2 separate regions of the Homo sapiens genome follow, and region 1 is linked to region 2. Evidence: fine-mapped expression QTL. Tissue or cell type: whole blood. Region 2 holds a variant in brackets; the other region holds the start of a gene. All regions are shown on one strand. Distances are between the middles of the regions.

Evidence for each region. PIP is the estimated chance that this variant, and not a neighbour inherited with it, causes the effect.
Region 1: it holds the start of CYSTM1, and the variant in region 2 is fine-mapped to the expression of CYSTM1 in whole blood (TOPMed, PIP above 0.99).

What each region holds. Positions count from the first base shown.
Region 1 is chr5:140,172,956-140,178,101 of GRCh38, forward strand. CYSTM1 (cysteine rich transmembrane module containing 1) reads left to right here and starts at 2,233. Exons shown (of 3, transcript NM_032412.4): 1 at 2,233-2,330. RefSeq lists an enhancer at 1,811-2,040 and a silencer at 2,331-2,620.
Region 2 is chr5:140,241,537-140,246,682 of GRCh38, forward strand. CYSTM1 (cysteine rich transmembrane module containing 1) reads left to right here. Exons shown (of 3, transcript NM_032412.4): 3 at 1,769-2,253. The coding sequence ends at 1,875. It overlaps PFDN1 (prefoldin subunit 1), which reads right to left. Exons shown (of 4, transcript NM_002622.5): 4 at 3,499-4,521. The coding sequence ends at 4,438. Among named protein-coding and RNA genes, the nearest start is that of PFDN1, 59 kb to the right of the region's middle. RefSeq lists enhancers at 1-205, 206-1,042. The variant A/G (reference allele first, on the strand shown) is at 2,233.

The sequences.
Region 1 (5,146 bases), 69 kb before region 2:
GATGTGGAGGTGGGGGTGAGGAATGTTCTATTTTTCCTTCGATGGTTACGCCCTCACCCTACCAACTCAGTAAAAGGGGAGTGGTCAGGGAGCGTACTGAGAATGTGTCCTAGCATCTTTTCTTCCCTAGCACAGCCTTCATATGACCCAGCTGCCATGAGAAGCTTGCCTCCCTTCTAAGGGAATTACCCCTGCCTTCCACTCCATCCTCACCTTGCCCTGCCCAGATTAGAGGCACGGAGGCATGTACCACAGGCCTGAAAAACTGTCCAGCCAAAAAGCCTGACTGCCTTGAGTACTATCAGGGTGTAGTTATGGACGTGCCTGTTTCTGCTCTTCCCTCTGCATTAGTGCTCTGCAAAGGGTGGCTCTTACCCTCAGATGGTCCAGAGGTAGTTTGGGGTGTGCATGGATCACCTTCACTCTTCAGAGGCAAACAGACAATGCTGCTCTTCTCCAACAGCCTCTGAAGGACACCACCTACTGACTGGTTCTGAGATGTTTGCTGCCCCAGAGTCTCCCACCTGCTTCTTCCTCCCCCTCAGTCCTTTTTTGTAGCCTCTCAGCCTCCCTTCTCTTAATGCTCTTAGCACCCTTTCCTGGGTCTCTATTTACCCTGCCCTCCCTTTCAGCAACTCCTTCCCAAACCACTGCATACTTCTCCTTTCTTTCCAATCCCTCCTCCCTTCCCAGCACTTTCGCCCTCCATTGAATCCCTCAAGCCTCATTCTGGCCCCACTCCTCCCCTCACCCTCTATCCCTGCCCTCCTCAGATCTGCCAAACACCTCAGGCCTGGCTGCCTCTGTCCTGTTCCTACCAACCTTCTGACCATGCCTCTGTGCTCCTTGGGACCTGGGCTCACATTTTCAATCTCTTCTCTCCTATTAGTACAGCTCTGTCTAGAGCCATGGTTCTTCTCTACCTTTCACAGCTGTCTTCTTTCCCACTTATATGAGTTTCTTTAAGTGTGAAAATTAAAAAGTGCCACTTAAATACAATGATTAAGTCATAATAAACAGTACAAGTTGTACTTATGTGAGACATACCACCCATACACGTTTGATCTTCGAGAACCACATCTCAATCTGCCCATGGCCCATTGCCTGACACTAAAAGATGCTCACAAGAAGTTGACTATAAACTAACTTCTTGGTCTAAGATCCTAAACTCTTGAGAGGGAAGGTTTCAATACATATGAAACCTTCTTGGCAGTGCAGGGATGAGGAGAGTAAAACTGAAATGAAAGTCAGCAAATAGTGAAGGTGTGAAATAGGCAGTGACTCTCACACTGAGACCTCCAGGGGATGTTAAATTTTCATTTCGAAGCTGATAGTCTTATCTGGGAAGCCTAGAGAGTAACAAAAGTTGTAGGCATATACTTATATTAGAGTGGTGCAAAAGTAATTGCTGTTTTTGCCATTTAAAAAAAAAATGCAAAAACCACAATTACTTTTGCACCAACCTAATAGCAAGCAAGGGGAGGAATATGGAGAGAAAATCAATTTCTAAAATGAAAAATAAAAAATTTTTTGCAAGTAGGACTTGCAAGCTCATTCTAGGCCTTGCTCTGGGAGCTTTTCGGTAACTTCTCTTCCTGTTGGAACAGAAGAAGGAAACCTTCAGGACAGAAGATTCTGTCCCCCTTCCCCCTCCTGATGTGAATGAAGTCTCATTACACTCTAAAGTACTGGCGGGACTACTTGTTGCAAGGTTTATGGGGAAAAGTAGCCAGAGAGCAATCCAGTTATCAGCCTCAGCCCCATTCCGCTCAGGTACAGCTCGGGAAGTAAGCCCCCAACCCTAGTTGGGTCTGGACCAACAAGACACGAGGAGGCAGCAGCCCACAGCCGACCCCTCATGCCACGCACTGAGCAGGGTTCCGCATGGACGCTGGTCTTGCCTCCCAGGCGCCTGAACTAGCGGAGTTGGGGTATCGGGTGGAGTCTCGGAGAACCAATCCAATCTGAGGGGGACGCCTGTGGGAGTCCTAAGTATCCAGCGCAGCTGGGAGGCCCACGTTGGGAAGTCGGAGACCGACCCCGCCTCCCGACTGCGCCGACTGCAAGAGAGCGCTTCCGGCGGCGCTTGGAGGCCGAGCAGTTGGGGGCGGGGCTCGTGCTGTGACGCAAGCCTCGCCTCGCCCCGCGCCGCGCGCGTTGCCAGGGTGATCAGGTGACTCCCGGTTCGCGGCGCTGGGAGCGGCCGTGACGTCAGGCGCCCGGCTGCTCCTCACTTGCTCTGAGACAGGTGCGGCAAGTCTACTGCGGGCTGGTCCGGGCTCCTCAGGTTCAGACCCGACCGTTATCCAGTCGGTTCGTGGAGAGGAGAGGTGAGGTGCAGCGGACCTGGCCCGACCCAGCTGGGACCAGGGCGGGGATCAGGCACGGACAGGGCGCGTCCCCGGGCTCCCTGGGGAGCGCCCTGAGAACTGGGGGGCACCCGGGCTGGCCTGGCTCAGGCAGGGGTTCGCGCAGCCCCTGGGGAGGGGCAGGGAGGCAGGGAAGCTGCTGCCGCCAGCTGGATCCCTCCCGGCGCCCCGCGGCTACTCTGGGGCTCCTGGTCGCCGCGCCGCGCGTCTCGGCGGTGGACTCACAGGGTCTCCGCGTCGCTGCGGTTCTCGTCTCACGAGGAGTCGGCGGGCTCGGAGCGGGGCTCGCCACACCCCGTCCCGGGGGACGTCCGCGGGAGGCTTCTGGATTTCTTCGCCTTGGGCTGCGATTTCTGAGGCGCTGCTCTGCCTATTCCGAGCTGGGCCAGCCGGGGGCAGGGGGCAGGTCGCGAGTCCCGCGGGTGGGAGCGGAGCGGAAGTAACTAGTGACTGGAAGTAACTAGGGAACGCAAAGCCGGCGCTCGGAGGCCGGGGTGTTCAGAGAAGGCGTTGCGGGGGAAAGGAATCCCGGCTGCTGTTGAGAGCCGTGGATTGGGATCTGAGCGGACCTGTTGGAGGAAGTGAAATCTGAGCGGGGTCCTGACGGGTGGGAACTAATCTCCCGGTAGCAGTGGAGGTTGCAGGGGGGAGAGAAGGAGGGGAGGACCCCTGGGGAAGGAGACCATGAGGAAAAACGATTTGGGGACTGACTGGACCGTCTGCTGGGCTGTTTTGGGGGAAAAAAAGTTTGGAGAATTAGGTTAGGGAGGATTAGGAAAGGACCCTTGAGTGCCCACCTGAGAGGCACTGTGTGCTGTGGGGAGCCATTGAAACGTTGGCTAGATTGGGGTAGGGGGAACACTGAGGAAGTTGGTGTGAGGGGAACACTGAGGAAGTTGGTGTGACATTCCGGCAAAAAGGTGACAACACTCTTCTCTGATGGGATTCCTCAAACCCTGCTTATGAAATACTTGTAACCGACAAGGGTAGGGGCTCAGGCAGCCAGGTGCCTTTTTCAGCCATTGTTGGCAAATTTTTAGAAATTAAACAAAAAATAATTGTACATATTTATAGATTTATACAATATGATACATGTAAACTTTGTGGAGTAACCATGTTAGCAGATTTTTAAAAATTCCTTTTTATGAAAGGACCCACCCAAGGGCAGCTCATTTTCGAGTATCTCATTTGACGGGATTTAATGACTGGTTGGGAGCTATGCCCCCCTCAGTATGCAGGGAGATTATAGCGTCCACAACACTTTGCCCTTCAGAGGTTTCAGAGTGACTTACAAACACCTTGTATCCCTAGGGTGAAACCCAAACCCCAAATGACTGGTAAGAGATTTAATAGGGGGAAGTTATTAAAGGAGAACCAGCATCCAAACATTCATGTGGGGCATTGGATTCGCTGAAAGGAGTCCCATACTATTTGTTGATTGTAGATCAAAGATCTCTAGACCTGGCCTGGTGCGGTGGCTCACACCTGTAATCCCAGCACTTTGGGAGGCCGAGGCGGACGGATCACGAGGTCAGGAGATCGAGACCATCCTGACTAACACGGTGAAACCCCGTCTCTACTAAAAATATAAAAAATAAGCCGGGCGTGGTGGCGGGCGCCTGTAATCCCAGCTACACGGGAGGCTGAGGCAGGAGAATGGCGTGAACCCGGGAGGTGGAGCTTGCAGTGAGCCGAGGCTGCGCCACTGCACTCCAGCCTGGGCGACAGAGCGAGACTCTGTCTCAAAAAAAAAAAAAAAAAAATCTCTAGTCCTTTCCTGCCAGCTTTGAGTTTCTCCGTGTAAGGCTGCGTAAGTGTTAGTTGGCTATTTTGTCTTAATTTCCTGAGCAACAGGAAAAATATATTTTGGTTATATGAAGAGGAATGCTTTGGTAATTTATGATTTTTCCCAGCCCTGAAATTTATTGGTGCTAGGACCAAAAATACACAGCTGTCTATTTTATTTTATTTATTTGTTTATTTTTGAGGCGGAGTCTTGCTCTGTCGCCCAGGCTGGAGTGCAGTGTCGAGATCTTGGCTCATTGCAACCTTTGCCTCCTGGGTTCAAGAGCTGTCTATTTTATATTGAAACTTACCAAAGTCTGTTTTCTGGGAGGTAGTGAAATTATTTTGTATTTCTTTGACTCCAGAAAACAGAATTGGACCTCCAGGGATCCTGTACAGTGAAAGGCAGGTTTGGGAATTGCGAAGGAAGGTGGCCGCAGCTGGTTTGTGCGTAAATATAGAAACCGGTGCAGCACTCAAAGGAGTGCAAATCCAGGGTGAGACCTGGGGAAACGGGACTTCCAGTCAGATCAGTGAAGTCATTCTCTGTAAAAGAAGCCCCGAAGTGTGTAAAAGGCCAGAGTAGTTTTTTCCCCGTGTGTTCCTGTTGAGTGGTAGAGATTATGATAGTGATTTTTAAGGGGCTTTGCAGGAGCTTGTTAATATTAAGAATCGCTGGAAATCAGATGTCTTGGCCTCATTAAAAAATTTAGAAAAGTAACTGTTTTCCAAATCTCTTTGATACTATTTGAAGTGGCCAACTAATTATGGTTCCTTTGGAAAGAAACAGTCCACCCCCTCCTTTCCCAAACAAAATAACTATGTGCTGTCAGGGCAGTTAAGTAGGCCAAAAGTTTTTGGAAATTTTCTGCTTTCATTCACCCAAGCCACCCCCACAAGTTTTCTCATTGGTAGAGAACTTAAGACTTTACTGTCAGGAAAAAAATGTTAGTGTGTTTCCCTAAATACAAACTATAATAAACAACAGGGCT
Region 2 (5,146 bases):
AGGCTATTTCCAGAGCTGGCAGGGGAGGGGCTTTCTGTCCCAGGGGCAGGCGAGCCAATCCTGTGACAGGGAGAGCACAGGGAAGGGGTTATTCAAGGGGATCTGCATGCCATTGTATTCTGGTTTCCCTGTCCAGAGCTGCCCATGCAGGATCCCGGGGTGGGCAGGCCATCCAGGCAGATGGAAGGGACACTCTGCCTGGGGCTTTCCTGCTGCAGTGACCCCAGGGCCTGGGGTGGCCAGGCTTCAGTGGGTAGGGTAGGCTCTGGCTGGATGTGAGAGATGACTTTGCTGTAGCCCCAGTCACCTCTGTTCTCTTTCTGATCCCTTTTCTATCCCAGTTGGGTATGAGCAAGCCTGGCTTGCCAGAGGCTTTAGAGCCATAAAGGCCTGGGTTCGGATTCTGCCCTTGCCTCTGCCTCGTCACATGTGCTTGAACGAGAGACTTGAGCTCTCTAAGCCTCGAATTCCTTGCCTGTGAAGTGGGAATGATGGTAGTATCTACCTCAGGGTTGCTGTGAAGACGAAATCAGGTACTTGACCTTAGGAGGCCTCAGAATAAATGAGCCATTCATCCTCTCCCTCTGAGCAGGCTTTCCTGGTGAAGGGCATCTAGACCCAGACCTGTGCTGCTGAGTGGAGCCAAATGCAAGTGGACTAGGATTAAACCTGTGCCATAGGAGAAGGAAAAGGAACATGTCCGTGCAGTAGAGGGCAGCTGATACAACGGGAGGACCTGGAAAATCTCCCTACTAACCCACTCAGCGTGCCCTGTAATAGCAATGACACCAGGCTCCAGAGAGAGGCGCTGCCGAGAGAGGTCTAAAAACAGATACAAAACACAAGAAAACTGAAAGAAAACCCCTAAAGGACTGGCTTAATTGATAACATTCATGCATTCATGAACTTTGGAAAAGTGAAATGCTTACTGCTTATGAGTTTGATGACAGTGGTTGTTTTGAGATTTTCAGTGGCCACAGATTGACTAGCAGCCATTTAAAATATGTCCTTATGGGAAGAGAAGCTAATGCCGCAAATCAGCTAACAAGTAGTGGGTAGTTGGGGTCCTTCTTGACCTATGGATTTGTTTAGCACTCAGATCTCTCGATAGAGCACTTGGCCATGACAGGGCTCAGGTTTCCAGCTCCATTTGGAGGAAAAGTGAGCATGCTAGGCTCAGGAAGACACCACACAGGCTCCAGCCGCCCCATCCCACTCAGCCAGGTTTTCATCCCTGCCTTCCTTCATCGTTTATGTCAAGGTATAGAGGTTGGGGGCACATTCTGAAATTGTGTATTGCCCAGGAATGAAAAACCAGGGCTCTTGATTATTCTTTAAGGGTTTAAAGCCCCCCTTTAAAAGGAGATTTTAATTCCCTTTCCTCTGTTATTCTTGGGTGATGGGTCAGCTGTATCCCAAGAAATGACCCCCAGTTCCCCTCCAGGGGGGAAGACATGCTACCTGGTTTACAAACCAAGTAGGGTTGGCCAACTCTGGTTGCCTTGGCATGGGGCCATTCTGCAAGTTCTCTAGTACTTGTCCCTGTGAGGGTGAGGGCGTCCTGAGTCTGGAGTGGCAGGAGGGAGAAAGCAGCTGAGCTGAGCCACCCTCCTTCCATTCAGCAGCAGCAATGGCAGGAACACGGTTTCACCAGTCTGCTCAATAGTTTTCCCCTGGTGTAGCCTTCCTGTGGTCCTGGGAGGCTAACTTTGCAGGGCCTGGGGTTTGCACCAGTCCATTCTCACCCTCTTCCCTCTTCTCCCTCCAGTGTATGTGGTAGAAGACCAAAGAAGAGATGAGCTAGGACCATCCACCTGCCTCACAGCCTGCTGGACGGCTCTCTGTTGCTGCTGTCTCTGGGACATGCTCACCTGACCAGACCAGCCCAGCCGTCCTGTCCTGCCAGCTCTGCTGCCACCTCTGACAGGTGTGCCTGCCCCCATCTCTTCTGATTGCTGTTAACAAATGACTAGCTTTGCACAGACACCTCTACCTTCAGCACTATGGGATTCTAGATTAATGGGGGTTGCTACTGTTTAATTCAGTGACTTGATCTTTTTAATGTCCAAAATCCATTTCTTATTGATCTTTAAAGATGTGCTAAATGACTTTTTTGGCCAAAGGCTTAGTTGTGAAAAATATAATTTTTAAATTATACATTCAAGGTAGTGGCCAAATGTAACACATCAATCATGGAATGATTTCTCTGCTAACAGCCGCCTGTATGTTTCA[A/G]TAAATTTGTCCAAAGCTCAACTGTCTGTCTAAATGATTCCAGGCCTAAGCTAAGCTACCTGGAGTCTGTGCTTGTCTCCTGGACTGTTACCATGTCTAACTAACTACTCATCTGCTCACTGAGGCTTATAAAATGTGGGTATCTATCTCAGCTAGTGGCCACCATCCAATGTATGACCAGCAGCCAATCTACCTTTTTATTCTGGTGGTGATGCAAACAGTGAGGGTGCTACAAAGGCGGCCAGTTCTGAGGGCCAGGTGTTCTCCAGCTGGGTCATGGGCTCCCGGCCAAGCTACTCTCCCCGTAGTCCCACTCAGAGATAGGCTCAGGGAGGAGCATTTGCCACATCTTGCACCTGCCTTTACCCAGAGCCTAGGAAAGGGCCTTTTGGTAACCAGGGGCTGCCCCTGGAGTGGCTTCCAGGCCTGCTCCCTGGAAACCCAGGAACCTACAATTACATGGGGCCAGCCAAGAGGTTTTCCTTTTTTTTTTTTTTTTTTTTTTTTTTGAGATGATGGAGTTTCACTCTTGTTGCCCAGGCTGGAGGACAATGGCGTGATCTCGGCTCACCACAACCTCCCCCTCCTGGGTTCAAGCAATTCTCCTGCCTCAGCCTCCTGAGTAGCTGGGATTACAGGCATGTACCACCAGGCCGGGCTAATTTTGTATTTTTAGTAGAGACAGGGTTTCTCCATGTTGGTCAGTCTGGTTGCGAACTCCCAACCTCAGTTGATCTGCCCGCCTCGGCCTCCCAAAATGCTGGGATTACAGGCGTGAGCCACCGCTCCTGGCTGAAGTTTTCCCTTCTGGATGTCCCCTCACCCCTCACCCCAGCTCGTCAGCCGTGCCACTCATCTCATATTTGGCCACAGGGTGGCGCCAGGCTGCCATAGCAGCAAGTCCGATTTTCCTCCATCAGCTGGCCCGCCCAGCCCAGCCAGCCCGAGAAGCCGCAGCTGACAGCTAGCTCCCTGCCGACTCTGCCTTCCCTCCGAAGCAGTGGACGTGCTGATAAATGTTTACCGGTGCTCTCTTTAAAAAAAAAAAAAAAGCCATGTTTTGTTGCATGTCCTGTGTCTTATTTCTGATGTCCTGTGTCTTATTTCTGTGGTGTACGTGTTCTCACCATGCCATGGCTGATTTCAAGTTACCAATGTGATGTCACTGACTGGAGCTGGGAAGGGCAGCACAGGACCTGACATCATGTGGGATTTCTACCACCCAGACACAACAGAGCCAACCTCACAGATCACAGTCAGTGCACAGATAGAGCACAGATCGTGGTCAAATGTAGTAATTAGGGATGCATTTTGAATATTTATTGTCCTTGTTTTTAACATAATTTGCAAATTTACATAATTATAATGGCTGTGTTTGACAACTGGCTTGCAACAAAATTCTTGAAAATTGAATAATTGGCCCACCTGGGCTGGGATGAGCCAGCTGGATCACACCGTTGCCCCCTCAGCCTCTAGGAGGCCTCAGGATTATGGCGTCCATCTTATGATATTGGCCAAAAGGAGACAGTCTTGGAGGTGCTGCTTACTGTTGAACTTCCTTTTGGAATGTATGGGAGAAGGCAGGGAAAGGAATCTTTAGGCAGACTGCCATCCAGGGACTGCTATTCTGTTCACTGAGATTCAGCTGTGAACATCTGTTCTTTCTTCCTCTTCTGTCTACTGCATGCAGGCCCGGAAGCTGAGCGTTAGTCAAAGGTACAGGAAGGGAAAAGAGAAGAGGGCAAGGCCCATCCCCCAAGAAAGGAAGGGCTCTGATGCAGAGGGAGCAGGAGCTGAGGTGGAGACGGCCACTGCCTCTCTCACCCTCTGTTCCATCCCTCTGCTCAAGAAAACCAGGCTTAGCAGAGTGGGACAGACGCTTTTTATTGGTCTGGCTGGCGTGCCTAGTGGAAAGCTCAGGCAGAGCTTCCTATCTTGCCCTGGCTCCCATCTTCCCTCTCCTGGGAGTTCATCACACATCCCGAGAGGGAAGAGTGTCCTGGGCAGAGGTGGCAGGCAAAGCCGGGTAAAAACTCCAGGGCTGGGAAGCAAATGGGGCTCAGGGTGATGCAGAAAATGTGATGTTGCCAGGCCATCCAAATAAAGCATCCATCGGGGCAGAGGAGAAGCTGTTTCCCTGCAGACACTCCTCTGCCCCCACCAGGAATGGGAGGGGCAGGAGGAAGAGCTTCCCAGAGAGGCTCCCTACTGGGCCCTTCGTGCCATCAGCATCTCCCGGATGTTGTCCTCAGCTTCCTTAACGCTTCGCTCCAGGTAGGACTTTTTCTGCTGCAATATGAGAGACAGACAAAGGTTAGGACCAGAGTGAATGGGCCGGGCTGGAAGACACAGCTTTGATGTCCAATGGTTATGGCTTTTCCTTTGTGACAGGCAACTTTCAGGAGTATACTGCAAGCCAGGTACACACACCTGCCCACAGTGCTCCCCTCACCTCCGAACCATGGGTGATCACGGGCAGGCAGCAGGGAGAAGATGGCTTTGGTAGAAGCAAAAGTGCTCTGTGGAGGACAGGCAGTAGCACTCTTCCCCCAGAAGGAAGAAGACTCTAAAAAACAGGCGTCTCAGTACATGAAGTTATCCCAGACAGACAAAGGCCAGGAAATTCCAGGACAAAGCTCCTGTCCGTAACAGACTATCTCCTCTCAAGGTTTTCCATGGCCTGGGCCAGGCGTCTGTAGCCACTGCAGCTATAAAATGGATGGTGCACGCTCTGCCCTGTCCAGCAGGAATATGGGCTGCTGTGAGGGCTGTGGGGCTGTCTCGCATCGCACTGAGTGGGTGAGTCAGAAGGCAATCTGCTTTTCTAATGAGACTGCTGCCTGCCAGGAATCTGGGACACTAAAACACTGAGGAAAGCAGACCTTTTGGAGGCTTACCTTCTACTCCATCTGGG